7 linked regions of the Homo sapiens genome follow. The protein of the gene in region 1 purifies or fractionates together with the protein of each later gene. This does not show direct contact. Each region holds a gene or a part of one and is shown in the gene's direction. Other genes may lie near its edges. The genes, in order: TMPRSS5, DECR2, BDH1, CLN6, TUBB6, CTBS and SLC25A14.

What was found.
Region 2: the proteins of TMPRSS5 (region 1) and DECR2 purify together in Homo sapiens (affinity purification with mass spectrometry; one large-scale study listed by BioGRID and IntAct). This does not show direct contact.
Region 3: the proteins of TMPRSS5 (region 1) and BDH1 purify together in Homo sapiens (affinity purification with mass spectrometry, with the first as the bait; one large-scale study listed by BioGRID). This does not show direct contact.
Region 4: the proteins of TMPRSS5 (region 1) and CLN6 purify together in Homo sapiens (affinity purification with mass spectrometry; one large-scale study listed by BioGRID and IntAct). This does not show direct contact.
Region 5: the proteins of TMPRSS5 (region 1) and TUBB6 purify together in Homo sapiens (affinity purification with mass spectrometry; one large-scale study listed by BioGRID and IntAct). This does not show direct contact.
Region 6: the proteins of TMPRSS5 (region 1) and CTBS purify together in Homo sapiens (affinity purification with mass spectrometry; one large-scale study listed by BioGRID and IntAct). This does not show direct contact.
Region 7: the proteins of TMPRSS5 (region 1) and SLC25A14 purify together in Homo sapiens (affinity purification with mass spectrometry; one large-scale study listed by BioGRID and IntAct). This does not show direct contact.

What each region holds. Positions count from the first base shown.
Region 1 is NC_000011.10:113,695,541-113,699,808, reverse strand, and holds part of TMPRSS5 (transmembrane protease serine 5), read left to right. Parts: intron 1-115; coding exon 116-214; intron 215-781; coding exon 782-904; intron 905-2,390; coding exon 2,391-2,526; intron 2,527-2,837; coding exon 2,838-2,951; intron 2,952-4,268. UniProt on the Homo sapiens protein: May play a role in hearing.
Region 2 is NC_000016.10:407,617-411,884, forward strand, and holds part of DECR2 (peroxisomal 2,4-dienoyl-CoA reductase [(3E)-enoyl-CoA-producing]), read left to right. Parts: intron 1-2,626; coding exon 2,627-2,751; intron 2,752-3,074; coding exon 3,075-3,168; intron 3,169-3,355; coding exon 3,356-3,460; intron 3,461-3,744; coding exon 3,745-3,962; intron 3,963-4,268.
Region 3 is NC_000003.12:197,552,712-197,557,560, reverse strand, and holds the start of BDH1 (D-beta-hydroxybutyrate dehydrogenase, mitochondrial precursor), read left to right. Parts: upstream 1-1,592; 5' UTR 1,593-1,780; intron 1,781-2,053; exon of another isoform or gene 2,054-2,219; intron 2,220-2,847; 5' UTR 2,848-2,999; intron 3,000-4,849.
Region 4 is NC_000015.10:68,205,724-68,209,610, reverse strand, and holds the end of CLN6 (ceroid-lipofuscinosis neuronal protein 6), read left to right. Parts: intron 1-1,200; coding exon 1,201-1,471; 3' UTR 1,472-2,619; downstream 2,620-3,887.
Region 5 is NC_000018.10:12,317,911-12,322,178, forward strand, and holds part of TUBB6 (tubulin beta-6 chain), read left to right. Parts: intron 1-2,625; exon of another isoform or gene 2,626-2,752; coding exon of another isoform or gene 2,753-2,834; intron 2,835-4,268. UniProt on the Homo sapiens protein: Tubulin is the major constituent of microtubules, a cylinder consisting of laterally associated linear protofilaments composed of alpha- and beta-tubulin heterodimers.
Region 6 is NC_000001.11:84,571,141-84,575,927, reverse strand, and holds the start of CTBS (di-N-acetylchitobiase precursor), read left to right. Parts: upstream 1-1,487; 5' UTR 1,488-1,512; coding exon 1,513-1,689; intron 1,690-4,787. UniProt on the Homo sapiens protein: Involved in the degradation of asparagine-linked glycoproteins. Hydrolyze of N-acetyl-beta-D-glucosamine (1-4)N-acetylglucosamine chitobiose core from the reducing end of the bond, it requires prior cleavage by glycosylasparaginase.
Region 7 is NC_000023.11:130,370,717-130,374,423, forward strand, and holds the end of SLC25A14 (brain mitochondrial carrier protein 1 isoform 1 precursor), read left to right. Parts: intron 1-847; coding exon 848-928; intron 929-2,192; coding exon 2,193-2,234; 3' UTR 2,235-2,641; downstream 2,642-3,707. UniProt on the Homo sapiens protein: Transports inorganic anions (sulfate, sulfite, thiosulfate and phosphate) and, to a lesser extent, a variety of dicarboxylates (e.g. malonate, malate and citramalate) and, even more so, aspartate and glutamate and tricarboxylates.

The sequences.
Region 1 (4,268 bases):
GGAGGTGTCCTGTTGGAGCTCTGTGGGTGCCTAGCCCCATAGTGGTGACTTAGGGTGAAGTAAGGCAGGCTGGCAGGAGCAGGGGACCCAGATACCCCTCTGCCCTTTCCCACAGTTTCTCAGGCAGTGTGCTGGCGTTCCATGCGACGTGGCTGTGCAGTGCTGGGAGCCCTGGGGCTGCTGGCCGGTGCAGGTGTTGGCTCATGGCTCCTAGGTCAGTGCTGGGGGCCTTTCTCTGGTGTGGGGGAGGTTGGAAGGGAGAAGCAGGTGCTGAGCAGGTGTTAAAGGTAAATGGGACAACTGTCTTCCTCAACTACTCTGTGCAGACAAGGGGAGAAAGGGTGAAATTGCAGCAGGAGGGATCTAGGCTCTACATAAAGAAGAACAAAGTGTATGATCCAAGGAGGCCGTAGTCAGACTTTTTCTGGAAATCTTTCCCAGTGAGAGAGACACAGAGAGAACACACACAGACAGAGACAGAGACATACTGAGAGACAGCTAGAGAGAGAGAGAGACAGAGAGAGAGAGAGAGAGAGGGAGAGAGAGAGAGAGAGAGAGAGAGAGAGAGAGAGAGAGAGAGAGAGAGAGAGAGAGAGACAGACAGACAAAGGAGAGTCAAAGAGGCAGAGATAGAGGCTGAGGCCGAGAGAGATGGAGCGCTATGCCCCTCCTCAGCAGGTTGGTTGGGGAGCTGCCTGAGAGCAAGGTGGCTGATGAGGAGGTCAGCACCTTGACACCTTCCTTTGGAAATCAGACCCTTTCTCTTTGTTCTTCTCTAAAGTGCTGTATCTGTGTCCTGCTGCCTCTCAGCCCATTTCCGGGACCTTGCAGGATGAGGAGATAACTTTGAGCTGCTCAGAGGCCAGCGCTGAGGAAGCTCTGCTCCCTGCACTTCCCAAAACAGGTGGGCTGCACCCCTAAGGCTACGGGCCTCCCTCCCCAGCAGGGACCTGTCACAGCTGAGGGCAAGAGAACCGACACTGAAGGGCCATCTGTTCACTGCCAACCATATGTGTTTCCCTCCTCTAGTGTGAGGGCAGTGACAAGGTGTCACCTTGCAGTGATCTCTGATTTGGGGCTTTCAGCACTGCCTGAGGACTGTCCTGATCTCTAGCTGGGGCAAGGTCCGGAGACCAGGCTGGCAGGAGGGATGGAAACTTGCCATTTGGGGCAGAGTGAGCCAGGGACATGGGGGAGGAGGGATCAGGTGTGTGTGTGTGGGAGCCAGTGTGTGACCAGCAGGGCCACCTAGGGACCTGGGAACATCAGCCCACCTCATCCCCACTCTCCCTCTCCTGATTGTCCCCTCCCCTCCAGGTAAGAGTTGGGGATCAGAAGGTACAATGCTGTCCAGAGGCTGGGGCTTAGAATAACCTCATTAGAATAAGGTTGGAGTCTGTCTTTGACTGTGTGACTTTGGGCACATTACTTCTTGTTGCTTCTGTTTCCTTCTCCATAAAATGGAAATATAAATATTTACTGCACAAATTGTTTAAGGATAAAACAAACTAATCTAAGAAAAGATATCAGCACAGAACTTGTGTAGTAGTCTGTTTGGTTTGCCATGACTAAGTACCACAGACCGGGTGGTTTAAACCACATTTATTTTCTCACCGTTCTGGTGGCTAGAAGTCCAAGATCAAGGTGCTGTGGAATTCGGTTTCAGGAGAGAGCTCTTTTCCTGGATTGTAGATGGCTGTCTTCTGCCTGTGTACTCCCCGGGCCTTTCCTCTGCTCTTGAGGAGAGAGGGAGCTCTCTGGTGTCTCTTCCTCTTCTTATAAGGACACTGGCTCTATTGGATCAGGGCGTCACCCTCGTGACCTCATTTAACCTTAATCACCTTCTTAAAGGCCCTGTCTCCAAATACAGTCACATTGAGGGTTGGGGCTTTAACATATGAATTTGTGTGTGTGTGTTTGGGGGCGGGGACATGAGTCAGTCCATAATAGCCTGGAAAAAGCATACACTCAACAACTGGTAATTATTATTATCACAAGATTTGAAATCAGAAGACCTGGATCTAAGTCCTGGATCCATCATTTCCTGACACTGTGATCTTGGGGAAGTTGCTTAAACTCCATGCCTTAGTTCTCCTTCTGCAGAATGGAGAGGATGGCAGTACTCATTGCACAGGGCTGCTGTGACAATGAATGGTAGACCACGCTTAAAAACACATGGTTAAAATAGAAAACTGAAATGCTCTACCAAAAGGGGTGATACTGCTCTTGGGACTGGTCTCACTCTCCGGGGAGCAGGGAACTTGGCACTGGGTGATCCAGATGCTGTCATTAAGGCCTCTTCAAGTACTACAGAATCCTGGGTCCAGCTCTTCCTGTCCCACCCTACCACCACCATCCTCTCCCATGTGGTTTTCATGCTGTGATTTCAGTATCTTTCAGAATAAACAGCGAAGACTTCTTGCTGGAAGCGCAAGTGAGGGATCAGCCACGCTGGCTCCTGGTCTGCCATGAGGGCTGGAGCCCCGCCCTGGGGCTGCAGATCTGCTGGAGCCTTGGGCATCTCAGGTAACAGGAGTTAGATGTGGGTCCTGTGAAGGGGGAGGCCTGGCTGGTGTGGGATGGGAATTGGAGACCTCTACCTGCCCGTCACTGGTCAATGTGCTCAGGAAATGTCAAGAGGTCTTTTTGGCCATCTTCTGGCCTCTGGGCACAATGGTGCCCCAGCCCATTTCTCTGTTTGGAGTATTACTGCTTTTTAACAAGCATAAACCCCAGCAGTAATCATTATCACAGTCTTGCGGTCACTATACTAGTATTATATCTCGTACATATTCCAGTTATGATTTCCTCCTGTTCTATTCCCTTCTTCTGCCAAGACTCACTCACCACAAGGGAGTAAACCTCACTGACATCAAACTCAACAGTTCCCAGGAGTTTGCTCAGCTCTCTCCTAGACTGGGAGGCTTCCTGGAGGAGGCGTGGCAGCCCAGGTAGGACTACTGAGGCTGTTAGGTGAGTGGGGTCCCTTACTTCCTGGTGGTCAATCCAGCAAAAATCTCCTTTCTTGGGATGCCGGTGGGGAGGACACTGGTGGCCTATGATAGGAGGACAAAGAGGAACATTTCCTAGTTAGAAATTACAAACTCAGTTCACATGAGCCCTGTCTGTCACCACTTCACATCTGCTATTTGCCCTTCACAAGAAATGTAGGGTTGGTTATTATTGTCACAAGATTTGACATGGTACTCATCACCATTTTACAGGTTAGGAAACTGAGGCTTAATAAGGTTAAAGAGTCTTGTCCAAGGTCACATAAGTAATAAGCAGCTAAGTCAAGCCTTGAAACCAGGCTCCTGTCTCCAAGCTAAGTGCTCTCTGAATCCTGCCACACATTATTTGGATAATTCGGATATTTCAGGAAAGAGATGGTTGAGTTGCTCTGGCTAAGAGTTGCTTGTAGTCTGGAGAGTCTCCTAGAGAAGAGGGCTGTGGAATGGAGCAGCCCCTTCCCCAGATCCTGGGGATGGTTTGGTATGACTGGGGCACAAGCGGAGAGGGTCTTTGTGCCTTCCTAGGCTTCCTCAATCTGCCTATCAGCCTCCTGGGATAGAAAGGTGGGCACCCCCATTACCACATTTCCAATTTGAACTGTTCCTTCAGGCCCCTCCTGTCCAGCTCCTGTGCTCAGGAATGTGGCTGGAGTTGGGAAGGTTCTGACAGGGTTCTTGTCTTGGATACCTGAATGGGAAAATGGAAGTAGGGGTGGGGCTGACTCCTCCAGGAGAGCCGGGAGGGCTATGGATTTGGGAAACTAGGAGAAACTAAGAGGGTCTAGACATTGGACTGCTAGGGGCAAGAGGTGAGTAAAGAAAGAGAAGAGAGTTTTGGTCAAAAAAGGAACTAAGAGCTAAGAGAGAAGAGGGGAAAGAGGAGAGCAAGAATATGAATATGCAAAGCCCAGGCAGAGGGACCAGGGTGGAGAATACAGCAAACCTAGGAAGGAGCATGGGGTGAAGAACCCTAGTCACCCACACACTCACCTATCCGTTCATTCATTCATTGAGTGTGTATTCATTCAGGACACTTAGTGGGAACAGTGTGGCTTTCTCATCTGTAAACACACTATGTCCCAGTTGATCTGCAAGGACCATGAAGTCCTTCTGTTGCCCTCTGGGAGACTAGGCAGGAGGTGTGCTCCTGTCCTGGGGACCACTGATGAGGAGGGGTCTGAGTGTTTGGGTGGGGGCAGGAAGGAAATGGTGGTATTCTTCAGGCTGTGGCTACATGACAGCCTTAAGAACTGTCCA
Region 2 (4,268 bases), on another chromosome or scaffold:
AGGCCCTAGAACTCTGGTCATGGGGTGGGGACCATGCCAGGGAACCTAGCTGCCTGTGCTGGGGTGGGCTGCACCCCATCCAGGTACCTGAGGCCAAGACTCAGGCTCCGGCCCCCTGTCTCCGGCCCCATCTCCGGCCCCCTGTCTCCGGGCCCCTGTCTCCGGGCCTCTGTCTCCGGGCTCTGTCTCCGGGCCTCTGTCTTCGGCCGCATCTCCGGCCCCCTGTCTCTGGGCCTCTGTCTCCGGGCGTCTCTCTCCGGCCCCATCTCCGGCCCCCTGTCTCCGGGCCTCTGTCTCCGGCCCCATCTCCGGCCCCCTGTCTCCGGGCCCCTGTCTCCAGGCCTCTGTCTCCGGCCCCCTGTCTCCGGGCCCCTGTCTCCGGGCCTCTGTCTCCGGCCCCCTGTCTCCGGGCCCCTGTCTCCGGGCCTCTGTCTCCGGCCCTCTGTCTCCGGGCCCCTGTCTCCGGGCCCCTGTCTCCAGCCCCCTGTCTCCGGACCTCTGTCTCCGGGCCCCTGTCTCCGGGCCTCTGTCTCCGGCCCCCTGTCTCCGGGCCTCTGTCTCCGGGCCTCTGTCTCCGGCCCCCTGTCTCCGGCCCCCTGTCTCCGGGCCTCTGTCTCCGGGCCTCTGTCTCCGGCCCCCTGTCTCTGGGCCTCTGTCTCCGGCCCCATCTCCGGCCCCCTGTCTCCGGGCTTCTGTCTCTGGCCCTCTGTCTCTGGCCCTCTGTCTCCAGGCCTTTGTGTCCCGCCTTCTGTCTCTGGCCCTCTGTCTCCGGCCTGACTCCGCTTCTCTGGGTGGCAGCAGGTCAGCACAGCTGCAGCCCAAGTGGACGCCATGAACACAGCTCAATGGTAGAGTCGGGTGCCCTTGTGTCCTGAAATTCCGTCTTTAAAAAAAAAAGTAATAGCCTTTTTTTTTTTTTTAGACAGCATCTCACTCTGTCACCCAGGCTGGTGTGATCATGGCTTACTGCAGCCTCCACCTTCTGGGCTCAAGCCATCCTCCTGCCCCAGCCTCCTGAGGAGCTGGGACTACAGACGTGTGCCATCACGCCTGGCTAATTTTTATATTTTTTATTTTTTGTAGAGACAGGGTCTTAGTGTGTGTTGCTCAGGCCAGTCTCAAACTCCTAGGCTCAAGCAATCTTCCTGCCTTGGCCTCCCAAAATGCTGGGATTACAAGCAAGAGTCATCAATAAAATAGAAGCTAGCCTGGCCTAGCTTTTTTTTTTTTTTTAGAGGGAGTTTCGCTCTTGTTGCCCAGGCTGGAGTACCATGGTACAATCTCAGCTTACAGCACCCTCCGCCTCCCGGGTTCAAGCAATTCTCCCGTCTCAGCCTCCCAAGTAGCTGGGATTACAGGCGCCCGCTACCACACCTGGCTAATTTTTGTATTTTTAATAGAGATGGGGTTTCATCATATTGTTTAGACTGGTCTCGAACTCTTGATCTCAGGTGATCCGCCCGCCTTGGCTTCCGAAAGTGCTGGGATTACAGGCGTGAGCCGCCGCGCCTGGCCCCCAGCTTTTATTTTTATTTCTTTATTTTTTATTTTTATTGATTTTTATTTTTATTTTTTGAGAGAGTCTTGCTGTGTCGCCCAGGCTGGAGTGCAGTGGCGCAATCTTGGCTCACTGCAAGCTCCGCCTCCCGGGTTCATGCCATTCTCCTGCCTCAGTCCCCCAGTAGCTGGGACTACAGGTGCCTGCCACCACGCCTGGCTAACTTTTTGTATTTTTACTAGAGATGGGGTTTCACCATGTTAGCCAGGATGGTCTCGATCTCCTGACCTCGTGATCCGCCCGCCTCAGCCTCCCAAAGTGCTGGGATTACAGGCGTGAGCCACCACGCCTGGCCGATTTTTTTTTTTAAATCACAGTTTTAGGTTTATAGAATAATTAATAGTATATGGAATTCCATACTCCCACCTACAGTTTTCCCTGTTAACATCTTGCGTTTGTTACAATTGATGAACCAACACTGGTTTCACTCTGCAGAAATTCCCTTTTAAAAACATCCTGTGTATTAGTTTCCTGGGCTAACAGAGTACTACGACCTGTGTGGGTAAAACAACCGAAATATAATCTCCCAGTTCTGGAGGCCAGAACGTCCAAGGGGAAGGCGTCGGCAGAGCTATGCTCTCTGAAGGCCCCAGGGGAGAGCCTCTTCCTGCCTTCTGCGTGGCTTCGGGTACTGCCATAGCCCTTGGCCCTCCCGGGCTCGGAGACCGTCGCTGCACTGTCTGCCACTGTCTTCCCGTGGCGTGTGTCTGTGTGTCCTCTTCCCTTGTTATAAGGATGCTGGTCATTGGATTTAGGGCTCACCCTAATTCGTTGTGACTTCAGTGTAATTCGATTATCTCTGCAACCCACCCCATTTCCAAACAAGGCCACAGTCGCAGGTACGGAGCCAGGGCTTCAGCATGTCTTCTCTTCTCGGGGACACAGTGCAGCCAGGACGCCCGTCTTGCTCTGGTCATTTTGGAATTTATCCTAGGGCATGGGTCTCCTCCCTGTGCCACAGGGCACCTGGGCTCCCTCCTGCACCCTCCGCTCTGCCCACCTGGCCACCACCCACTTGGCATCCCTCTCCCCAGGCTCCAGCAGCTCCTGCGGTCTCCCATTCTGCAGGTGCGGCCGGGAACTTCCTGTGCCCCGCTGGCGCCTTGTCCTTCAACGCCTTCAAGACCGTGATGGACATCGATACCAGCGGCACCTTCAATGTGTCTCGTGTGCTCTATGAGAAGTTCTTCCGGGTGGGTGCCTCGTGCGCTCTGTGAGAAGTTCTTCCGGGTGGGTGCCTCGTGCGCTCTGTGAGAAGTTCTTCCGGGTGGGTGCCTTGTGCGCTCTGTGAGAAGTTCTTCCGGGTGGGTGTACTCCCAGCGGGGGCCTCCCCCTGACGGCCGCCCGCTCCCTGCCCTGGGCCTCCCCATGACGGCCGCCCGCTCCCTGCCCTGGGCCTCCCCCTGACGGCCGCCCGCTCCCTGCCCCGGGCCTCCCCCTGACAGCCACCCGCTCACTGTCCTGTGACCTCCCCCGACACCCGCCCGCTCACTGCCCCGGGCCTTGTGTGTTGCAGGACCACGGAGGGGTGATCGTGAACATCACTGCCACCCTGGGGAACCGGGGGCAGGCGCTCCAGGTGCATGCAGGCTCCGCCAAGGCCGCTGTGGGTATGACCACCCCCCCCCGCCCAGGTTTGCCCACGTGGGTCCCCAATGGGCCGTCTGCTTCCATCCCAGGAGGCCAGCAGTCTCCACTTGAAGCTGAGCCCAGCTGCAGGCAGCGAGACCTGGCCTTGGCCCTGCGCCCTCGCAGAGGGCAGAGCGGCCCTTTCATATCCAACTTTCTTCTGTGCAGACGCGATGACGCGGCACTTGGCTGTGGAGTGGGGTCCCCAAAACATCCGCGTCAACAGCCTCGCCCCTGGCCCCATCAGTGGCACAGAGGGGCTCCGGCGACTGGGTAAGGCTCTCAGGGAGCCCAGGCCTCCCACAGATCCTCTCCTGGGGCACAGGGTGCCCATGAAGCTTCCAGAACCTTGGCAGGGTGTATGTTGAAAAGCCCTGTGCTGGTTCCATGGTGGCAACTATGTTCTGTGCCTGGCCTGATCCTGCTCCATGCTAGGCCTTGGTGACACTGACTGTGTCCTTGCTGTTCCCAGATGCCTCTCAGGGAATGAGCTGGGGGAGAGGGGAGGGTGCTGGGTCTTGGGGCTCACGGGGCCTGAGCCTTCTGCTGCCCTCCAGGTGGCCCTCAGGCCAGCCTGAGCACCAAGGTCACTGCCAGCCCGCTGCAGAGGCTGGGGAACAAGACCGAGATCGCCCACAGCGTGCTCTACCTGGCCAGCCCTCTGGCTTCCTACGTGACGGGGGCCGTGCTGGTGGCCGATGGCGGGGCATGGTTGACGTTCCCAAACGGTGTCAAAGGGCTGCCGGATTTCGCATCCTTCTCTGCTAAGCTCTAGGTGAGGTACTGCTCCCGCTTCTTGGGGTCATCTGTGTCCTTGGACGCTGGTCACTGCATGGGCAGGTCTCTGCGGGACCCACGGGGCTGGCGTCTCCTTTGTCCCCATCCTCCCGGCCCCTGCGCCAGCCTGCCCACACATGGGTGCTGCCCAGTGGGGCTGAGCAGGAGGCGGGCGCTGGTGTACTTGCTCTTCTGTAGCGGCCTCGGCCTCTGCCGGCATTTCTGGCAGGTGCTGGGTGGCCGAGGCAGCCGAGGTGTTTTAGGGGGAAGCCGTCCTCAGCCGGCTACTAAGTTCTGAAACTCC
Region 3 (4,849 bases), on another chromosome or scaffold:
ATTGGCCAGGCTGGTCTCAAACTCCTGGCCTAAAGTGATCCACCCGCCTCAGCCTCCTACAGTGCTGGGATTATAGGCGTGAGCCACCGCACCCGGTCTACAGTTTTCTTTAAATCTTCATCATGCCAGTACTTCCCTCCTCCTGTTTTCATCTTCCTGTATTTGCAAGTTTCATTCATTCTCTTCATTCTATTCATTCCTTCTCTGTACTTTACCTAAACATAGTTGTGAACCCCCAAAATCTGAGCCAGATCAATTTAGGAAGTTTATTTTCCCAAAGTTAAGAATGCACGCAAGTGAAATGGCCTCAGGAAGTCCTGACATGTGCCTAAGGTGGTTGGGACACAGCTCGGTTTTATACATTTTAGGGAGACATGAGACATCAATCAACATATGTAAGATGAACATTGGCTCAGTCTGGAAAGGTGGGACAACTCGAAGCAAGGAGGGAGCCCCCAGGTTATAGGTAGATGAGAGACAAATGGTCGCATTCTTTCGAGTTTCTGATGAGCCTCTCCAAAGGGGGAATCAGATATGCATTTATCTCAGTGAGCAGGGGGTGATTTTGAGTAGAATGGGGGCAGGTTGGCCCTAAGCCGTTCCCAGCTTGACTTTCCCCTTTAGCCTAGTGATTTGGGGGCCCCAAGGTTTATTTTCCTTTCGCGTAGCTTCGCCACTAATGTGTCCTGGTGTCTTCTCTCCTCAGCCTGTTTCTCATCCTGGAAACTGAGGTGTGCTGGCGCAGGGCGATAGCGCAGTGGGGTGGGGTTGGGAGGAAACCCTTATCTGTGGCCGATGGCCCTCCGTTGTTCTATTATTAAAACTCTGGGAAACTGCTATTCTTAATTTATTTTTAAAGACCCTGAGAAGCAAATCTTTAATTTTTTTGTTTTTGTGAGACGGAGCACTCTGTCGCCCAGGCTAGAGTGCAATGGTGCAATCTCGGCTCACTGGAACCTCCGCCTCCTGGGTTCAAGCGATTCTCCTGCCTCAGCCTCCCGAGTAGCTGGGATTACAGGCGTGCGCCACCGCGCCCTGCTAACTTTTGTATTTTTAGTAGAGACTGGTTTTCACCATGTTGGCCAGGCTGGTCTCGAACTCCTGACCCCAAGTGATCCACCTGCCTCAGCCTCCCAAAGTGCTGGAATTACAGGCGTGAGCCACCGCCCCCGGCCTTTAAATAAATTCATCTGATCAAAAGAAATTTAAAAACCAACCAACCCTAATGAGCTCTAAAGACAGCAACACGCACAGGACCTGGAAAGAGCCTCTTCCTCACCGGAGTTTTCCTCACTTCAAGGAGCGGCGCCTTCACCCTCCGGCCTCAGCCCGCGAGGCTGCAACCCTTTCCGCACCTGGCTCCATCTCCCTGGCCCTCGCCCCCGCCCAGCGGTCGGGGAGCGAGAAGGCGGCGGGGGATCTGGCGCCCGGCTTAGGGGCGAGACGGCCGCACCGGGAGCCTAGCGATCAGGGCACCTTGGGCGGGAGGAGCGCCAGCCGGGCACCCAGCGCGGAGGAGGCGGCTCGGCGGCCCCCCGACAGCCACGCCGCCGTGAGCCCCGCCCAGCGTAGCCCCAGCGCGCGCTTCGCGTGTAGAAGCGTCCGGGTGGCGGAGGCCGCAGGCCGCAGGAGTGCTGGTGGAGGGGCTTCCAGAAAGACCCTGCGGCAGCGCCCCCCCTCGGCTCTCCCCGCAGGAGAGCGGGCACCTGCGCGGCGCCGGGTGAAGGCGAGAGCCTCGGCGAGCCCTCTGCAGCGGAGCCCCCTGCCCATTTGGTTTTGGGTAAGAGGAGGGGTCCGCGTCTCTGCAGCTCGGGCGGGATTCCCTGGCGCCCTCTACTCGGTTTGGTTCGGCCTCACGTGTTCCTTTAGCTCCGAAGCCGGGATACGGGTGGGGAAGGGGGGCTCGCGCCCTACAGGCCGAGCCCTGCGGCCGCAGCGGGGTAAGGGTAGGATGGCCGATCGCGCCCAGACCCCAGGGAGTCTCCCTCTCGGCTTTTCTGCCGGCGTCTCCAGCAGCATGATCTGGCATTTATTATTCGGAATAATGTGCCAGGCAGGAGGAGGCCCTGGGTTAAACACGCGGCCCTGCAGCTCCCAGGTGAAACGACTCATCGTTTCCTGCCGGCGCATCTTACTGAAGGGGACCCAGGCCCCACGAAGGGAAGGAACCGTCCTCAAGGTCACGTCGTAGTCAAAGGCCGAGCCCAGACCGAAGCCAGGTGTCCTGCCTTCTAGCCCCGGGCTCTAGGCCCTGTCCCCTTCCCGACCGAATCTCCCAGTCCCGTCCGCGTCCCTCCTCCTCCTCCTCCTCCGGGGTCCTCCGCAAGGCTCTGTTCCCGGGGTTTGGGGAGTCCTCCCTCCGCGCCACAGCGCCCTGGGGAAGAATGCTGGACAGCAGGCAGGCCACAGGGCCGGGGAAGGAGGAGGAGCCGCGGGGACAGGCTGGGGATGCCAGAGTGGTGGTGGGCCCGGGACTGGCCAGGGTGGGAGTCCAGGCGGCGCACCCGCGCGAGGACAAGGGGGCTTTGGCTGGGCGGTGCTGTCTCAACCAATGGGAAGCGTGGCTCTGGCCGAGCCCCCCTCTCTCCCCGCCCTCCGGCCGGCCGTTGGGGAGCGCTGCTCTGGGATTGGCTGCGCCGCCGTCTCGGGCGTTCTCGCGCTCTGCTTACGTGCTGACGCGCGCCTGATAGATACCCTGTGGGTTTGAGCGCTCCGGTCGGTCCCTAGCGGCCCAGGCGCCTTGGGCGTGCGTCCTGCGCGCGGCCGCCTCCAGGCTGCGCCCTTCTGGGGAAGTGTTTGGTGCTGCGCGCGGCGTCGAACTCCGCGTTTTTTTTTTTTCTTTTCCAGCCAGTCAGCCTGGAAATCTGCCTGTAGTCAGCTGATGCAGAGTCACCCTGCAGTTCCTACTTTGAGGGGTTGCAGAAGCACATATTTCACTATGGAGGGCCGCCTGCAGGCCTCGCGCTGACAGGATCTTTTGTGACGCTGCAAATGTCCTGGTCAGTGTCCTTCTTTCTACAAGAGGCGTTGGAGCCGGGCTCTGCATAGGGCGTATATATCCCTGGCCGCCAAGGAAGCTGACCCTTGAAATTTGTGAAGCTTTCATATTCACTCAATACACATTTACAGAGCCTCTACTTCCTGTCAGGCGTCACACAATAAATATTCGGAGGAGCAAGAAGAGAGTGATTCAACATTTGGGTCTTGTCTGTAGGGTGCTCACAGTCCGGGTGGGGATTGGTGGTAGGATGGGGGCTTGTGAATGTTTATAAACAGAAATCCCTCGAATACGACCCTGGCTAGGTAGGTGCAGTTACAGAGGCACAGAAGGGAGGAGATTGGGCGAAAGATTTTTGAATTAGGGGATTAGAAAAGGCTGCTCGGGAGAGTTATCTGAACCAGCTAGGACTTGGTCAGATGCAGTCAGTTTGGTATAGGATGAGCAAGGCTCGAAAATTGGAAAGTACAGGGCTTGTTGAGGGATGGTGTAGCAAACGGTTGAATGAGTAGAGGAGAAAAGTATAGTTGGAGATACGGTTTGGAGGAGCCAGGTGAGGACTCGGGGGCTCAGCTTGTGTCCTCGGGTTTGAAATGCAGTAAGCACTTGTGAATAGAAAGGCTGCTTAATCATTTGCACTACTGTCATTTGTTACACCTAGACCAAACATCTTGGAAATGGCTTTGATTCTTCCTTCTTTCATATCCTACACTCAATCTGTTGGTAAATGGTAGCGGACTCTACCTTCAATATAAAGCCAGACTTACCAATTCTAATCAGTTCCATGGTTTTCACCAAGGCTGGTGTACATTTCTAAGGAACACGTTTTCACATCTCACTGCAGTGGTGCAATATACAACCCTCATGACTGCACATGGTGGCCCTGGATTACTGCCACAGATCCTAATGGGTCTCCCTGCTTCTGCTCTAGTCCATCCTCAACTTATTAACCCAGTGAGAGTTACCTTTTTAAAAATGTAAGTCTGATAATGGCACTCCTCTTCTTAAAACTCTTCTTTTTTTTTTTTTTTTTTTGAGACAGAGTCTTGCTCTGTTGCCAGGCTGGAGTGCAGTGGCGTGATCTCGGCTCACTGCAATCTCCACCTCCTGGGTTCAAGTAATTCTCCTGCCTCAGCCTCCCAAGTAGCTGGGACTACAGGCGCGAGCGACCACACCCAGCTAATTTTTGTATTTTTAGTAGAGACGGGGTTTCACCATGTTGGCCAGGATGGTCTCGATCTCTTGACCTCGTGATCTGCCCACCTCGGCCTCCCAAAGTGCTGGGATTACAGGCGTGAGCCACCACACCCAGCCAAAACTCTCTTAATTCATTTAATTATGTACCAGCCAGGCGTGGTGGCACACACCTGTAATCTCAGCACTTTGGGAGGCCGAGGTGGGCAGATCATTTGAGGTTAGGAGTTTGAGACCAGCCGGGCCAACATGGTGAAACTCCGTCTCTACTAAAAATACAAAAATTAGCCAGGCATGGCGGTGCATGCTTGTAACCCCAGTTACTTGGGAGGCTGAGGCAGGAGGATTGCTTGAACCTGAGAGGTGGAGGTTGCAGTGAGCCAAGATTGCACCCCTGCACTCCAGCCTGGGTAACAGAACGAGATTCCATCTCAATGAATCAATCAATCAATATTGTGTGTCTGTTGTGTGCAGGGCACTGCTGTACATGTTGGAGATACAACAGTGAACAAAACAGACAAAAATTCCTGTTCTCAAAGAGCTTATATTCTAATGAGACTGAACAACAACAAACAAGATAAATATGTACAACATGTAGAATGCTATAATGTAATAAAGTGCCAAGGAGGAGGAAAAAATGGAAGCAGAGAAGGGGGA
Region 4 (3,887 bases), on another chromosome or scaffold:
AGGCAGGGGCACTGAGAGAGCCACGGCAGCAAAATTCTGCACTTGCCAATGGACCTGCTGTGTGGCCCCAGGGAGACTGGCCCTCTTTGGGCCCGTGCTTCTTCTTGTGTCTAGTGGGGACTGTGACAATGCCCTGTGGTGGCCTCTTTGTTTCCATGAAGCCCAGGCCTGGGTGTGGCAGGGAGGTGGGAGGAGAGGGCGAGGTTGCACAGTCTGTCTCCATCCTCAAGCCCCTCTCGCTCTGTGCCCCATCTCAAGAACCCCAGTGTTGCCCTGGGGCCGGTACAATCCACCTCCGACACCAAGCCCTGTAGTGGGCTGCGGTTTCCACCTCTGTGAAGTGGGGATGATGGTACCTGCCTGTCTGCCTCTCAGATGATGAGGATGCTGAGGACAGAGAGGGGCTTTGTCAAATGTAAAGCACTATGGCGAGGCCAGACTGGGGGGTTTCATGGCGTAGGGGCTTCTGGCCTTGGGTCTTTGTTCCCTCTGGCTCTCTCTTCTTCCCATTGCAGAGGACTTAGGCCTCAGCCAGTCTCCTAGCCCTCGTCTGTCACTTCTGCCCTGGAGACAGGTCACCCTGGGATTGTGGGTATCATGGGAAGGACAGGGTCGGGGCAGGACTGGACCCTTCTCTGATGGGAGGCCTCCCTCAAAATGAAAAGGGCCTCCTTTCCTGGGCCAGCTCTAGATCCTCTCCCCGGCCTGTCCCCTATGTGGCTGAGATGGCCCACTGGGGCTCATCTGTATGCTCTCTGGGGATTAAAAAGAATGGGTGGCAGCTACAGTGAGCGGGAAAGACGTTAGGGGAGCGCTTCCTGCTGGTTCTTACCCCGGCATCCTGCCGCGGGGGTGGCTGCCGTCGTAATGGCAATTGTTTGTTGCTTTCTCCTCTAGTCAGTTTTTGTTGTGTGGAAGTATAAACTTAATGTGACCAGAGAAGCCAGAAATATACATTTGTAGGTATTCTGTTATTTAAATATTGGCAACAAACTCAACATTTAAAAAACAGTAACTATACCAGCTAAATCAATATGCTGCCCATGGGCTGTGGCTTAGAGCGGCATAGTTCTCTGAGCCCTGGCACCAGAGGACTCTTCTGCCTGCCTGGAGGGCAGCCTGGCTCTCGCACACAGGAAGGGATGCCAGGCAGGACGGGGTTGCCACGGCAGCTGCCTCACTCACCCCTGGCCTTTCCAGGTACCTGGTCACCGAGGGCCAGATCTTCATCCTCTTCATCTTCACCTTCTTCGCCATGCTGGCCCTCGTCCTGCACCAGAAGCGCAAGCGCCTCTTCCTGGACAGCAACGGCCTCTTCCTCTTCTCCTCCTTCGCACTGACCCTCTTGCTTGTGGCGCTCTGGGTCGCCTGGCTGTGGAATGACCCTGTTCTCAGGAAGAAGTACCCGGGTGTCATCTACGTCCCTGAGCCCTGGGCTTTCTACACCCTTCACGTCAGCAGTCGGCACTGAGTCCCTGGCACCAGGCTCTGGCGCTCTGCTGGGTGGGAGGGTGGGCCATGGAGGGCATCTGAATACAGGAGTAGGGGGGGTGTGGGTGTGTAACCAGAGACCGAGAGCATGAGTGGGGTGTGCCTCGTGTGCGTGGATTCGTGTGTGTGTGTGTGTGTGTCTTGTATATGTGTGCGCAGAGTGCATCATTTTCAGACTCTACTATTTCCGTCAAGTTTCTGTTTGATTTGGATCATCTCAGGATCGGATTCTGTTTTAGAGTGTTTCTGGGCCAGGATCCGGGCCCCTGCCCTCCTCTGCACCTGACCACACTCCCTACTCAGGGCTAGTCTGTTCTTCCCGGACATCTTCTGGTAGCCGTGCAGGAGAGGGCTGGGTGGGGCAGAGGCCAGGAGGGGACCTGGTGTGTCACCTGCCCACCACCTGGCTCATCCCTCAGGCCCACCCTGACCCTACATTACATAGGTTACGTCAGCCTACTGTGGCTGTTGAGCAAAGCATTTCTCCTTTCTGGGCCTCATTTGCACTAGATGGGCCTGTGGTCCCAAAGTAGGTCAGTAGGTTGGGGTTGCTGACACCCCTTGGGTGCAGCTTTGGGACAGATGAGTGGCTCTGTCCTGTCACTGCCCTCTCCCTGCCTGGGGGCTATGTGCACTCCAGACCCCTGCCCAGGCTCAGGCCCATGAGGTATGGAGACACCCTGGCCCCCAGGAGCTGGAGGCACCGCCCACTCCCCTGGCATTCCAGCTTTGCAGGTGACCCTCCTCTACCCAAAGCTCTGTCCCCCTGCTCCCACTCCAGAAGAACTGCGGCACGCGCTTCGGGCAGCCTAGCCACAGGCTTTGAGCGCCTGCATTCCTGGGGGCTGGAGGGTGGGGTGCCAAAGGCCCTGAGCAAAAGCCAGAGCTCCTCTCATCAAAGCCTTTACAAGGTGCTGGGCCCAGAGGCTTTGCCTTGACAGAGTGGCCCAGGGTTTCAAGGGAGGAGGAACCTCCCCCTACCTAGGACCCTTCCTGTGGGGGGTCTACAGAGTCAGGGACAGAAGGGAAGGGACCCACAGGAAGTCACAGTGGTGCCCAGGGATGTGTCAGCCCCCAGCCACGGGGACGCGGGATTCAAGAATGAAGTAAATACAGTCACAGCCCCAAGTGGTGTTAGAGGTGTTTTTTGTCTTTTCTCCCTTTCGTGCTGAGGTGTAGCACACACGGTGCGCCCTACAGCATGGTGAGTTGCTGTATCGTGAACCCTCACGCAGCCATTGCCCCACGCTGGTGTTTTCCATCTGTGCGTCACCCCCGGAGACACCTACACACATAAGGAGGGAGTTGGCCGGGGCACCCCAGCACACACTGGCCTAACTCCAAGGAGGCACCTCATCTCTTCTGGAGCCCCTTCCCACAGGCAAGGGGATTCAGAGGGAGCATGTTGGCCTGGCCGCCTTCAGGCTTCCAGAGTCCCAAGTGACTTTCCTTGATGTCCTTCTCTCCATCCTCTGCACAGAGGCAGCCTTCCCTCCTCTTATCCCTGCCATGGGGTTTGGGAGGGGGAGCCTCAAACTCTGACAGGGAGGAGTCGGAGTCCCCAGCTAAAATTCTCTGGGTCTAGAAACAGGTGTAAAGCGATTCTGGGGATGTGATTTGGGAGAAAAGCACACTTTCCACACAGAGGCGGTCAGGAAAGGAGCGGGGAGGGGAGAGTGGGGCACAGGCAGCGCCTCCCGTCTATGCGCCTGTGTGCAAAGTGGCACAATGCCCCCCTTCCTATTGGCAGTGCAGCCCCTGGCCAGCAACCACTCGCACCTGGGCTGGGGGCCTTTGTGTAGGGCACACCTGTGCAGCCACACCTACTTGTAGAGCCTCATAGACTCAGCTGTGGACAAAAGCCTCACGCCCCAAACAGGGAAATGGGATCTCAAGGGGAAGAAGCTGGGGAGGCCTCACACCCTGCCCCCATTTCCTCCTATGTGGGGGAGGGGAGCAGCACGAACTCCTGAAGACTTGGGAGCGTCAGCAGCTTCTGCGGAAGGGGTGGGGCTGAGGGTGGAGAGAGGAAGGGAAGGAAGAAAAGGGGAGCCTTCCTGGCCAGGGTAACCGGCACTAAGAGGCCTCACTCCAAGCCCCCGAGGAGCCTGTGGTGGGGCTGGAGACCCGGCTCAGGCCCCTCCACCACCCTTAAAGTCCTCAGAAGGTGGGAACTGAACTGGCACAGGATGGGAACCGGCTGTGCGCTGGCCACTTGATTTTGCCAGCTGCCCTGTAATTCAGCTGGTGAGGAAACTGAGGCACAGACTGAGGTAGAATGATTCGCCAGTCACTCAGCAAGTCAGCAGACGGGGAGGACTGAATCCCAGCCTGAGAGCACCGAAGCTTGTATCCCTGCAATACCGAGCCCCAAGCCTGCGAGCCCCGGTGCCCAT
Region 5 (4,268 bases), on another chromosome or scaffold:
CCTCCTTTCATCAAGAGCACAGAAAACTTCATGGCTATTCATGCTATAAATATTGAGGAAGCTGGGTAAATGGTGTGAGCTGCAGAGGGAGTCAAGTTCAGCATCTCCGTCCACTTACAGCTAGCTCAGGTCTGATTGATTGGGGTTCTATGTTTGCCAAAAGCCACCTACTATTTTCAGTTGTTGGTTTCTGCTATTTTAATGAAATAGGTCCCAGGCTATTTTGACAGCTGCCCTGGGTCTTTCCTTTGTAAAATGTGACAGTTCTAGCACCGAGTGTGGACCAGCCCCGAGCTTGTTCCTCCCAATACCTATGTTGTAGTTTTGCCAGGTGCTGCCTGCTAGGTTGGGTGGGGAAGGGGTGGAGAGAAGTTGGTGGGGGCTTAGGAAGGACGGTGACCATTTTCTCGCCTACTAAGAGAAGGCAGTCAGCTAGGATTCACTGTGCAACACAGCTGGGCAGGAAGAAGAGAATCCCCTGTTTGTAAGAGAACAGTCACATACTAGATGCTGTCTACGGCTTGTGAAAAACACAAGGAAACGGCCACCTGAGAGTACTAAAGTGGCCAGGCCCACGGGGTGTGCTGCAAGCACACAGCAGGCATCTGCCTAGCCCGGCCCCTCTGCAGAGCCATAGGGCCTGCCATGCCAGTGACACTGGGCTTTGGACTGCCAAATGGGGCAAAGACAATAGGAGAGAAAGGCTGAGCTGATTTCTCAGTGGGACTGAGACGGAGATCTAGGGAGGCTGATGCTGCAGACAAGTGCAAGGGCCCTCTGTGGTCAGTTTCAGCTGGCCAGTTCTGCTCTCTGGAAACTTCAGTGTTCAATATTTAAATGTGTGGTTTTGTTTGTTTGTTTGTTTGAGATGGGGTCTCGCCTTGTCACCCAGGCTGGAGTGCAGTGGTGTGATCATAGCTCACTGTAGCCTCAAACTCCTGGGCTCAAGCAGTCCTCCCACTTCACCCTCCTGTGCTAGGATTGCAGGTGTGAGCTCCCATAGCTGGTCTTATACAAAAAAAAGTGTTTAATGTTTTCATGTCAAAGTTAAAACAAAGTGCTTGTACATGGTTTTTTCAAACAGTACACATAGATTGTGTATACAGTGCAGAAAGGGAAAGCTGTCATCCCTTCTACTGGTGGCCCCTGAGGTTTTATTCCCTAGGGGGATAACCGAGTGTGTAGACAGTTGTGCTGTGTCCTGCTGACATTTTTCCTTTTTCCTTTTTTTTTTTTTTCTTTTTTTTTTTGAGACGGAGTTTCGCTCTTGTTGCCCAGGCTGGAGTGCAATGGCGCAATCTCGGCTCACTGCAACCTCCACCTCCTGGGTTCAAGCAATTCTCCTGCCTCAGCCTCTGGAGTAGCTGGGATTACAGGCACCTGCCACCACACCCAGCTAATTTTTTGTATTTTTAGTAGAGATGGGGTTTCCCCATATTGGCCAGGCTGGTCTCGAACTCCTGACCTCAGGTGATCCTCCTGTCTCGGCCTCCCAAAAGTACTGGGATTACAGGTGTGAGCCACCGCGCCCGGCCCTGCTGACATTTTTCTGTGTCCATGTGCACCTAGGTGAGCACACAGAGCTGATTTTGTCTGGGGAAAATGGGATCCTGCTATACACACCATTTTGCAGCCTTTTGAAAAATTCATTAATGTATCTCAGACATCCTCCGTGACAGTCACAGTGCCTACCATTGTATATGTCATCATTTAGTAATTTCCCACTTACTGATGACATTTTAAAATTTTTCATTAAAGAAGAGCTGGGCTCAGGCGTTCACACCTGCCATCCCAGCACTTTGGGAGGCCAAGACAGGATGATCACTTGAGTTCAAAAGTTTAAGACCAACATGGACAACATAAGGGGACCCTCTCTACAAAATTTTTCTTTTTTTTGACGGAGTCTCACTCTGTCGCCCAGGGTGGAGTGCAGTGGTGCGATCTTAGCTCATTGCAAGCTCCACCTCCCGGGTTCACGCCATTCTCCTGCCTCAGCCTCCGGAGTAGCTGGGACTACAGGCGCCCGCCACCATGCCATGCTAATTTTTTTTATATTTTTGGTAGAGACGGGGTTTCACCATGTTAGCGAGGATGGTCTCAATCTCCTGACCTCGTGATCCACCCGCCTCGGCCTCCCAAAGTGCTAAGATTACAAGCGTGAGCCACCGTGCCCAGCCAAAAAAATGTTTTTTTAATTGTCCCAGCTACTCAGGAGGCTGAGGCAGGAGGATCCCTTGAGCCCAGGAGTTGGAGGCTGCAGTGGCTATGATTGCACCACTGCACTCCAGCCTGGGTAGCAGTGGAAGACCCCATTTCTAAAATAATAATAATAAAAAATTCCTTTTTTATACTTTAATATTCACTTATCATAAAATAAATGTTTTAGTTAAAATGTCATAAAGCTAGAAATGAACTCTCTTAGGACCCCATCCTTCAAAGACAACCTGTGCTTTCTTAATTGCATTGTAAATGTTTTAATAAAGTAATTTTTTTTTTCATTTTGCTAGCTAGCTAGGTAAAACATTTTCATGGTTTAGGACTTAAAAGGAACAAAAGGGTATATAGTGAAAAGTTGATCTCCTTCCTACCCCGAACTAGTGTTAAGATTCTTGAATGTCCTTTCAGGTATGTTCAGGCAGACGCATATATTTACACACATACAATGGAGCCAGCTGTATACACTGTTTAGTACCCTAGTGTTCCTCCCTGGCTCCCCAGCAACGTATTTTGAAGATCTTTCCATTTCACAAGTATGGCTGCCTCATTCCTGTTGATGGCTGATAGTATCCTCTGCAGAGATACCGCCGTGGATTTAACCAGTCTTCAGTTGATAGGTATTTGGGTTGTTCCCCTTTTTATTATTATAAATTGTTCCTCAGTAAACATTTGTATATATGTCATTTTGCACATGTATGGGTCTATCTAGAAAAACTTACAGAAGTGTAATTGCTGTGTCTAGGGGGATAATTTTGATAGCTGTAGCTCAGCTGTTCTACAGCCCACTGCCCTTGCTATCTCCAGTAGCTCCCGTGGGAAGTGGCCTTCCCCAAACCCTCAGCAGTGCAACTCAGGTGTTTGGATCTCTGTCAGTTTCACAGCAGAAAAATAGAATCTCCTTGTTTTAATTTGCGTTTCCCTTATGAGAAGGGTTTAGCATTATTTCCAGTACCTAAGCTATTGGAATTTCCTTTCCTGTGAGCTGTATGTTTATAGCCTTTGCCTGTTTTCCTAATGGCTGTTGTTTTTCTTACTGATTTAAGGACTTCTTTAGATATTGAAGGAGGGTATCCTTTATATGTGATATGAGTTATTAACAGTCCAGTACATACATTTTAACATTAAGTTCAGTACACTTAATGAAGAATCACAGAATTTGTTTTTTCTTGCACTGAACACCTACAGTGTGTAGCACTGATAAATGCTTCATCCCCCCCAAGAGTAGAGCCACTGTGTAAGGCTGCACTTGTTATGTACTGCAGAAGCCAGGGGTGCCATCAGTAGACCTCATTGTGAGCAGGCCCGTGTCCCAAATTGCATGGGAGCCCCTTGTCCACTAATTAAAGATTGACAAGTGAAAGGCAGCTTGCTTACCCGATGTAGCACTTGGCAGCTCTCAGAGGCAGCCTTGGTGGTTTCACTGCTTCATAGTTCAGTGCCCCCAGGGTGAGTGCAGCATCAGGGATGGACCTGCCCACGTGAAACCAGAGAGGCTGGTCTTTGGCAGTGGCTGTGAATTGTTGCCACCAGCCGTGTGTAGACAAAAGTCAAGTTGGAGTAAGTGGGGAGAGGTCTGTATAATGCAATGCAAGTTTTTATGACTTGAATTAGTTAAATCTGCAGCCCAAAATTTCATGAAAATAAATATTTAAAACATTTTATTAAAAATTAAATTGACAAAGTCATATTAGAAATTAGTATTTCAATTTTCCCAACTCTAAGTATACTGGAATAAATTGCCTTAAAGTGAAAGAGTGAGAGTGTATTTAGTAAGTCTTGGTTAAGCCTTTTTGGTTTACATTCAGAAACAAGAAAAGAATGACTGATGTAAAATGTCATGACCTGCAAGTTAGGTCGTTTCCAATTCTGCTTTCTTCAACATTGAGTTGTTGGCCAGGTGCGGTGGCTCATGCCTGTAATCCCAGCACTTTGGGAGGCCGAGGTGGGCGGATCACTTGAGGTCAGGAGTTCAAGACCAGCCTGGCCAACGTGGTGAAACCCTCTCTCTACTAAAAAATACAAAAATTAGCCGGGTGTGGTGGCAGCACCTG
Region 6 (4,787 bases), on another chromosome or scaffold:
TTGTATTTTTAGTAGAGATGGGGTTTCACAATGTTGGCCAGGCTGGTCTCAAACTCCTGAGCTCAAGTGATCTGCCCACCTCGGCCTCCCACAGTGCCGGGATTACAAGCATGAACCACTGTGCCCAGCCCAAATTACTTATTTCTTCTTATTTGTACTACGCTGCTTCTCAAGCACCTTTAAGAATTATTTATTTCATCCCCTCTGTACTGCGTTTTCCAATTTTCTTATCTTTCAGAGTTTTTGCTCTACATTCCTCAGTGTTATCTTCTACTAATAGTTTTTTCACTTCTTTCTTATTTCTATTAACTTTTAAAAATCCCCTACCCCTTTTATTGCACCCTGTTGTGGCTTCATCTTCTCTTATTTTTCTGGGGCTATTATGAGAATTTTTAAAAGTGTTCTCCCTGCAGCATCTGCTTCCTCCATATTCCTTTGTCTGTTGTTTGGGTCCCTTCTTTCTACATTATTGGATTTTTTTGGTTGCTGTCCATGATTAAAAGTAAAAATTAAAAAGTACAAAGAGAGGAAGCTCCAAGTAGATAGCTGGTGCTTTTAACTTTGAATTTCACTGTAGGGTGATCTGGGTGTATGATTTGTCCAGAAAACCCGATGTCAGTATCTTTGCTCAGCCTCTTAGGTTAATCAGATAGCGAGGGGTTTCAGTTTTCAGTAGGCATAAAGCCACTTATTCTCCGTTTTAGGTGGAATACCCACTCAGCAGAGAATTTATCCCCTTCAGGGAATTCAGCCGGGGTGGGAGCCCGTGGTGGGAAAGAGGGGCAGCTGCCCAGAGACATGAAGCTGGAAAAAGGATCTAGCGATCAGAGTCCTTGAGCAGCCTTTGACTAATCTCCCCCTTTTCCGATTTACCTCTCATACTCATACTTGTGCTCTCCAGCTTCCAACATTTTGTTGCTGTTATCTCTTTGTCCTTGTGTTTAGGTTGTTAAACTTGATTTTTAACAGGAGAGTAGGCAAAATTAGATGCTTGAATTCAAACCACGATCTTAACTAAGACCTGATATCCGTAAGTAAAAATTTTTGGTATTCCAGCTTTCTTTTGAGTAGCAAAAGAAAAACAAAGTCTTTTGGCCACTCCAACCATGTTACTCAGTAGGCCCTTCCAAAGACACCCACTTCTCCATTTTGGGGATCCCCTTGTACCTTCAGACTCCACAAGGAGTACACGACCAGCCACGACAAAACGAGATGCAGACTATTGGGAGGACTATAAACGGTAGGGGTGATACCCATTTGAGTCCACGAACGGCCCTCTCGGCGCCGCAGACACTGGCTGTCCCCCGAGACGCTCCAGCAGCCACTTAACTTCACCCACCTGTAGCGCCCGGGGACGCTCGAAGCCCGACCTCCCACGCCCGCCCCGGAGCCCCGCCCCTCCCGCCCCTCCCCGCCCTTCCCGACTCTCCCCGCCCCTTCCTGCCCCGACGCGCAGCAGGCCCCGCCCACCCAGGCGGTAGGAACCCACTCCGGCCCGCTAGACCTGCTGCTATGTCCCGGCCGCAGCTTCGACGCTGGCGCCTCGTCTCTAGCCCGCCGAGCGGCGTCCCGGGTCTAGCGCTGCTGGCGCTGCTGGCGCTGCTGGCGCTGCGGCTCGCGGCCGGGACCGACTGCCCATGCCCGGAGCCTGAGCTCTGCCGCCCGATTCGCCACCATCCAGATTTCGAGGTCAGCGCCTTCCTCTGCTCCTCTAGGTCTGGGCTTCAGGGCACGAAGAGAAGTTAGGGTAGAACGGAGCCCTAAGGAGAGGTGCCGTGGGCGCCGAAACCAGCTTTGACCACTCGATGAGGGCCTTCCTGTTTACGGATCCTTCAATTTATAGATGAGGAAGCTCGGGCTCAGAGAAGTTGAGTAACTCCTCAGGCCTCACAGCCTGTAAGTGCCTGCGTAGGCAGGCGAGAGTTCAAACCAGATCTGCCTCCTAAGGCAAGCTCCTTTCATTCCCCTGCTGTGCCTCTGCGGAAGCACTCTGGGTGTAAAAAGCAAACAAGGTAGGATAATCCATTTATGTTTCCAAGGAACGAGGATTTCGTTTGAAAGAATCTCAGCACTCCAACAGTACATTAGAATGCAGAGTATTTTGCTTACCTTTAGTTTTCTATACCTGCTAGCCCTTTCCTTTAAAGTACCTCAAAACCACCCATGAAGAGTGGTAAAAAAAATAGCTTTCAGTACATTTTCCTTCTATCTACATAACAATTTGTAAGGCTTCTGGCAACTTTAATCAAACACCTTCTGGAGCAATATTAAAACCACCTGACTGCCCACTTCGATGACTGAAAGCAGGAATTGGATGACATCAGGAAGGTCCAAAGGCTTAATTCAAAGAACGATTCTTTTGTAGAAATAGGCATGATTCCTAGTTCTTAATCTAGTACATTAATCTGAGGCAGAACACTTAGATGCCAGTAAAAAAGTATATATACATGACTTAGGAGAAGAAATAAAAATGGTGAAAGTGTTTATGGAGAACCTGCCTAGTGTGGAAACCTAACATCTTATTAAAAGAAAGACTTCAGACAAAGTAGGATAACCTTTTTTATTTGAGCAAAGAACAACTTATGAATCGGCAGTACTTAAACCAGAAGGGGTTCAGAGAGGTCTGCTTTAGTAGCATGGGCTTTTATAGGCCGAACAGGGAAGCAAAGGAAAATAATTACTTGGTTGGCTATGACTGTTTGCCTTATTTAGCTATGACTTGGTGGAAAATTACTAGTTAGAGGTTAGTTGGCAGTTTCTGATAGGTTAAGCTTAAGTTTCCTTTCACTGTTGACCTTGGGCTGGAGTTTGCTTAAGCAGGAAATCCAAGGCAGTTGGAGCTGTTTCAGCATAATGGCCTCCCAATTAAAATGTTTTATACAATCTGAGGCCCAGCGCGGTGGTAGAGGCAGTGGGGACAGTAGCTGTAAAAGTTCAACCAGACATTTCTTAATTTTCTCAATCTCTTTTTGAGATTGAGAAGCACTTTGTGAGGCCAAGGTGGGTGGATCACTTGAGGTCAGGAATTCGAGAACAGCCTGGCCAACATGGTGAAACCCCGTCTCTACTAAAAATACAAAAATTAGCTGGGCGTGGTGGCGGGCACATGTAATCCGAACTACTTGGGAGGCTGAGGCAGGAGAACCGCTTGAACCTGGGAGGCGGAGCGGGAGGCGGAAGGTTGCAGTTAGCCAAGATCACGCCACTGCACTCCAGCCTGGGCGACAGAGCAAGACTATGTCTCAAAAAAGAGAAAAAAAAAAAACCTGAAAGATTTACTGTAGTACCCAATACTTAGTGGGTTAGGCAATATCTGTGGGCACTTTGAAAACCAACTATTCAAAGAAGCAAAATTATGCTTATTTGTATCTTCATGGTAAATGGTCTTTTTCTCTACTGGCGTTTTCTATGTTTTTCAAACACAAAAACTAGACTACATGGCATTTTCCCCTTATATTTTCAATTAGTTCACCCAGCTTTTTTTTTTTTTAAGGATATCTGTTATATCACAGGCTCTTAGTATTTTTTAAACAAATAGAATCTTAATTATCAGAACTAAAATAGAAGTTTTGATAGAAATATGAGTCAGAAAACAATGGGCCACTTAATTTCACATTATGAATTTTTATTATTTCAGTAGGCAATTGCTTAGCAGAAAAAATGAGTTATGCATAATTAATTCTGAAAAGTTAAAAAAAATTAAAAAAAATTAAGAAATGCCTGGTTTAACTTTTACAGCTGCTATCCCCACTGTCTCTCCCTCATTCATTCCCCTCACAAGGACCCAGTGATCTCTTTTGTAATGCATATCCCCTGAATTAAAACTCTAATTGATTCCCACTGATCCCAAGATAAAATACAACATCTTCAGTGGTCTTGGAAGTCCTACTTAATCTTTCCACTACCGACTTTAAAGGTTTTATCCAGTTCCACATACTTGCAGGATTTCTGTGCTCTACCTACATTGACCTTTTTCAGTTCCAGAATCTCAGAATTCTCCTGAGGTGTAGCGACCTTTGGGCTTTCCCTTCCCTCAGTTGAGAATGCAATCTTTTGTCCATAGGTATATCTCTTCCATCATTCTGCTGATTTCAGCCCACTCCGAAAGTGTGTAGTCCTCAGAAAAGTTTTCGTGCACCATCTGGCTAGCAGGTCCCCTTTATATGCTGGCGTGGCCCCCTGTAACCCCTACAGTCCTTAATACCATTGTAATTAAGTAGTTAACTCCTTACTGGACCTGGTCTCTCTCATTAATCTTTATCTCCTTAGAGCCTAGCAAAATACTCTCCTTGTACCTTATTGGAAATTCAATAAATATTTGCCAAATCAATGAATTAATGCCTTGGAATAAAATAAAAATAATCAGTGAGGCTTCTGTGCTTCTTGAATTAACTGTGGGAAGAAAATATCAGAGAAACACAACATCAGGTGCCTTAGAATTTGACCTAGGTACTATTCTAAGAAGCTAGCTTCACCAAACAAACAAAAAACAGTAAATGTATTTATGGCTCCATCTGCAGTAGCCAGAAACTTGAGTATTATCAGACTTCTCTCCTTTGATTACTCATTCGATTAGTCACAAAGTCCTGTCAATTTTGCCTCCTTAGGATCTTCCAGATCTGTTCACTTAACGCCACTGCTCCACAATTTTAGTTGAGGTCACCATCATCTCTTACTTGGATTCCTCCAACAGTTTCTGTATTCTGCCTCCAGTTTTGGTGTCTCTTTAATCCTTTTCCCACTGCAGCTGAAAATATTTTTCTAAAATGCATACCTTCCCCTTTTAA
Region 7 (3,707 bases), on another chromosome or scaffold:
TTTAGTTCTCTTTGTGGCACTTATTTTTGGATATAATATATATCAATTTGTGTATTTGTCAGCCCCACTAGAATATGCACTCCATGAGGGTAGAAACTGCTGTATAGGTTACCTATTGCTGTGTAACAAATTACTCCAAAACTCATTGCCTTAAACCATTTGTTATTTTGCAGTTTCTGTGGGCCAGGGATTGCAAAGCAGCTTAGCTGAGTTGATTCTGGCTTAGGCTGTCTCCTGAGGTTGTAGTTCATATGGCAACTAGGGTTGCTGCCATCTAAAGCCTTGACAGGCTGGGATAGCTGCTTCAGTGATCACTCATGCAGTTGTTGGCTGGAGCCCTCAGTTCCTCACCATGTAGTCCTCTCTTCATGATATAGCAGATGGTTTCCTCTAGAGTGAATGAATCCAAGAGAGAATAAGGCAGATGCTTTATTATATATAAAATATATTTTATAACCTAGCTATGGAAGTGACATATGTTCACTACTACCATATTCTGTTGGTGACACAGACCAAATACTATGGGGTGGAGGCTACGCAAGGGTACAAATAACTGGAGGTAGGGTTCATTGGGGGCCATCTTGGAGGCTGGCTACCATAGACACTTTTTCTGTCTTGTTTATTAGTATATTCTCAACATCAAGAATGGTGCTTTGCATATGTATGGTAGGTAAATATTTATTGATTAAGTGGGTGGATGGATTTAGACTACAGATGAATTTAAAATGGACCTTTAGAGAAAAGACTATTCATGGAGCCATAAGTTGCCCTGGGGTGGGAGTGGAAGGTGATGTCAAATGTAGAGAAAGGTGAATTCACTCTGTTTTTGGTTATATCTTTCCTGCAGATGTGGAAACATGAGGGCTTTTTTGCACTCTATAAAGGATTTTGGCCAAACTGGCTTCGGCTTGGACCCTGGAACATCATTGTATCCTTTGAGAGAATGAAAGCAAGTGCTTCAAGCTCCCAGATAATTCTAGGCTATGGGAAGGAAAATTTGATTATTAAAGCCTTTTAGGCTAGTGAGAAACTCAAGCATCCCATTGGTGACCCTTGAGAATCAAATTAAGCAAAGAAACAGCTTTCAGTTGGAGGCTAATACAAACTAAAAGGGATAGAAAAGATATGTCAAACTTTACTCTTTAAAACAAAATGACAACAAACACAGCTAATCTGGAAGGGGCTATGAAGTTTTTAGAAACCCTGATGGACGAAGCCTACAGGAAAGTCCATGCTGAGGTGGTTCAGATTTCCTACCCCTAACTATAGGACCAAAATAGCTGGGAAATAAAAACAGGACAGAAGACATTCATGGGGTGAAGGAATCCACAGCCAAGCAGGCTTCTTTCTTCATGGGTGAATCTGTCTCCTCCAGTTGTGTTTGAGTGCCTCCTAAGTGCAGAGCCATGTATTGGATACTGTGTGTGGTGTTGTGTGTATAATGGTAAGCACCGCAGGGTTGGAAAGTAATTCTCTGCCCTTGTGGGGTCTGTAGACAGAGAGAGGGTATCTCGTTCCCTCTTGGAATCACTCTGATCATCTAATTAATTATATGTCGTCACTGATGTTCTTGGTTACTGTGTGTGTGTGCGTGTGTGCGTTTGTCCTGTTTCCCCCTGAAGACTATAAATATATTAGAGTTTTACTCTGTTTATGTTGTTCGATGCCAGTGATCTGAATGGGCACATGGTAGGCACTCAATGCATGCTTGATTTGACAGGTGGTGTTTTATTTATTTATTTATTTATTTTTATTTTTTTTTTTGAGATGGAGTCTTGCTCTCTCGCCCAGGCTGGAGTGCAGTGGCGCGATCTCGGCTCACTGCAAACTCCACCTCCTGAGTTCACGCCATTCTCCTGCCTCAGCCTCCCGAGTAGCTGGGACTACAGGCACCCGCCACCACACCCGGCTAATTTTTTGTATTTTTAGTAGAGACAGGGTTTCACCATGTCAGCCAGGATGGTCTCGATCTCCTGACCTCGTGATCCACCCACCTCGGCCTCTCAAAGTGCTGGGATTACAGGCGTGAGCCACCGCGCCCGGCTGTCAGGTGGTGTTTTAGAAAAGATTTTAAAGCAGATGCAGCTTGGAATAGCATAGACTACCTTAATTTAAGAGAATGCGATGCTAATTTTAGAACTAGCTTTGGCTTTCGATATCAACCTGGTGATCTTCCTTGACTTACTCCTCAGTTTTTTATTACATACGAGCAGCTAAAGAGGCTTCAAATCTAAGAACTGAATTATATGTGAGCCCAGCCCTGCCAGCCTTTCTACTCCTTTGCCCTTTTCCCGTGTTCTAATGTATTTTGACAATGTTGTAAGTGTTTACCAAGCCGTTGGTCTCCTAAGGGCCTCCTGATGGAAGAACAGTGGGGTGGTTCAAAGTTATTTCTATGTTTGTGTTACCATGTTAACTTTTCCCCGAGAGAAAGTGTTAACATTGAGACTCTGGCCCCAGATTGGTATCTTCTATGAAGATGGATACTGATGGGTGACATTGAAAACGGCCTGCTTTCCAAATGTGGTTAAATGTAATTGGTTAGCCCCAGACTTGGGCTAGAGCAGAAGGCATAGGCCAGGGTGGTTATTGCTATATGTGTTACAGACCTCGGTTCTCATTAAAGTATTTATTGGCAGAATCACTTTGGCTTTGTCTTCATTTACTATTTTCTCCTTTGCCAACTCTTGAAGTTACATTCTCCAGAGAATAATAAAGGAAGATAACTATGAAATTGAGACTGGACTCTTAAAGTGCACTTTTATGAGACGAGAATGAGTGCATTGTGCTTTCCCACTGCCATTCATTGTCATAATGCCACTGCTAAACGTTGGGCAGGTGGTTCTTTCTTAAACATGAATAAACAAGCAAGTGGCTCATTTGGAAGTTCCTACAGGTAAAAAGCTAAAAAAAGGCTTAAAATAGAAGCCTGTTCCCAGGGTTCTAATCATCTTACAGGTACAAAGTTCTGGCTACTTTTTTTGTACTGAAACAGAGCCCGGCTCATTGTAGGCACTCAAATATTTGTGGAATTAATAGTTCTTCATCTTTATCCATTCATTAATTTGTTCAACATTTATTATGTATCTATTATGTCTAGGACTATAAAATGACTAAGACATAGTGTCTGTTTTCAAGCTCACATCATAGTGGAAGAACAGATTTGTAAGTAAATAATTACAGTAGGACCTAAGTACTATGTGAGAGATGAACAAAATGCTGTGTGGGAGCACAGAGGAGGAACAGCCTTACCTAGAGGATTTGCCAAAGGCTTCATAGCACAAATGACACTCGAGGTGAGACAGAGGAAGAGTCTATGTCACCATGAGGATAAGGCATTATACATTTTGACAAATGTGTAATATGTATCTATCATTATAGAATCATATAGAATGGTCTCACTGCCCTAAAAATCCTCTATGTTCCTCTTATTCGTTCCTTCCTCTCGCCTAACCTCTGGCAACTACTGAGGCTTTTTACTGTCTCCATGGTTTTGCCTTTTCCAGAATGTCATATAGTTGGAATCATACTTTTCAGATTGGCTTTTTTTTTTTTAACTTACTTATATGCATTTAAGGTTCCTCCATGTCTTTTCGTGGCTTGATAGTTCATTTCTTTTTAGCACTGAATAATACTCTATTGTCTGGATGTACCAGTTTATTCATTCACCCACTGAAGGACATCTTGGTTGCTTCGAAGTTTTGACA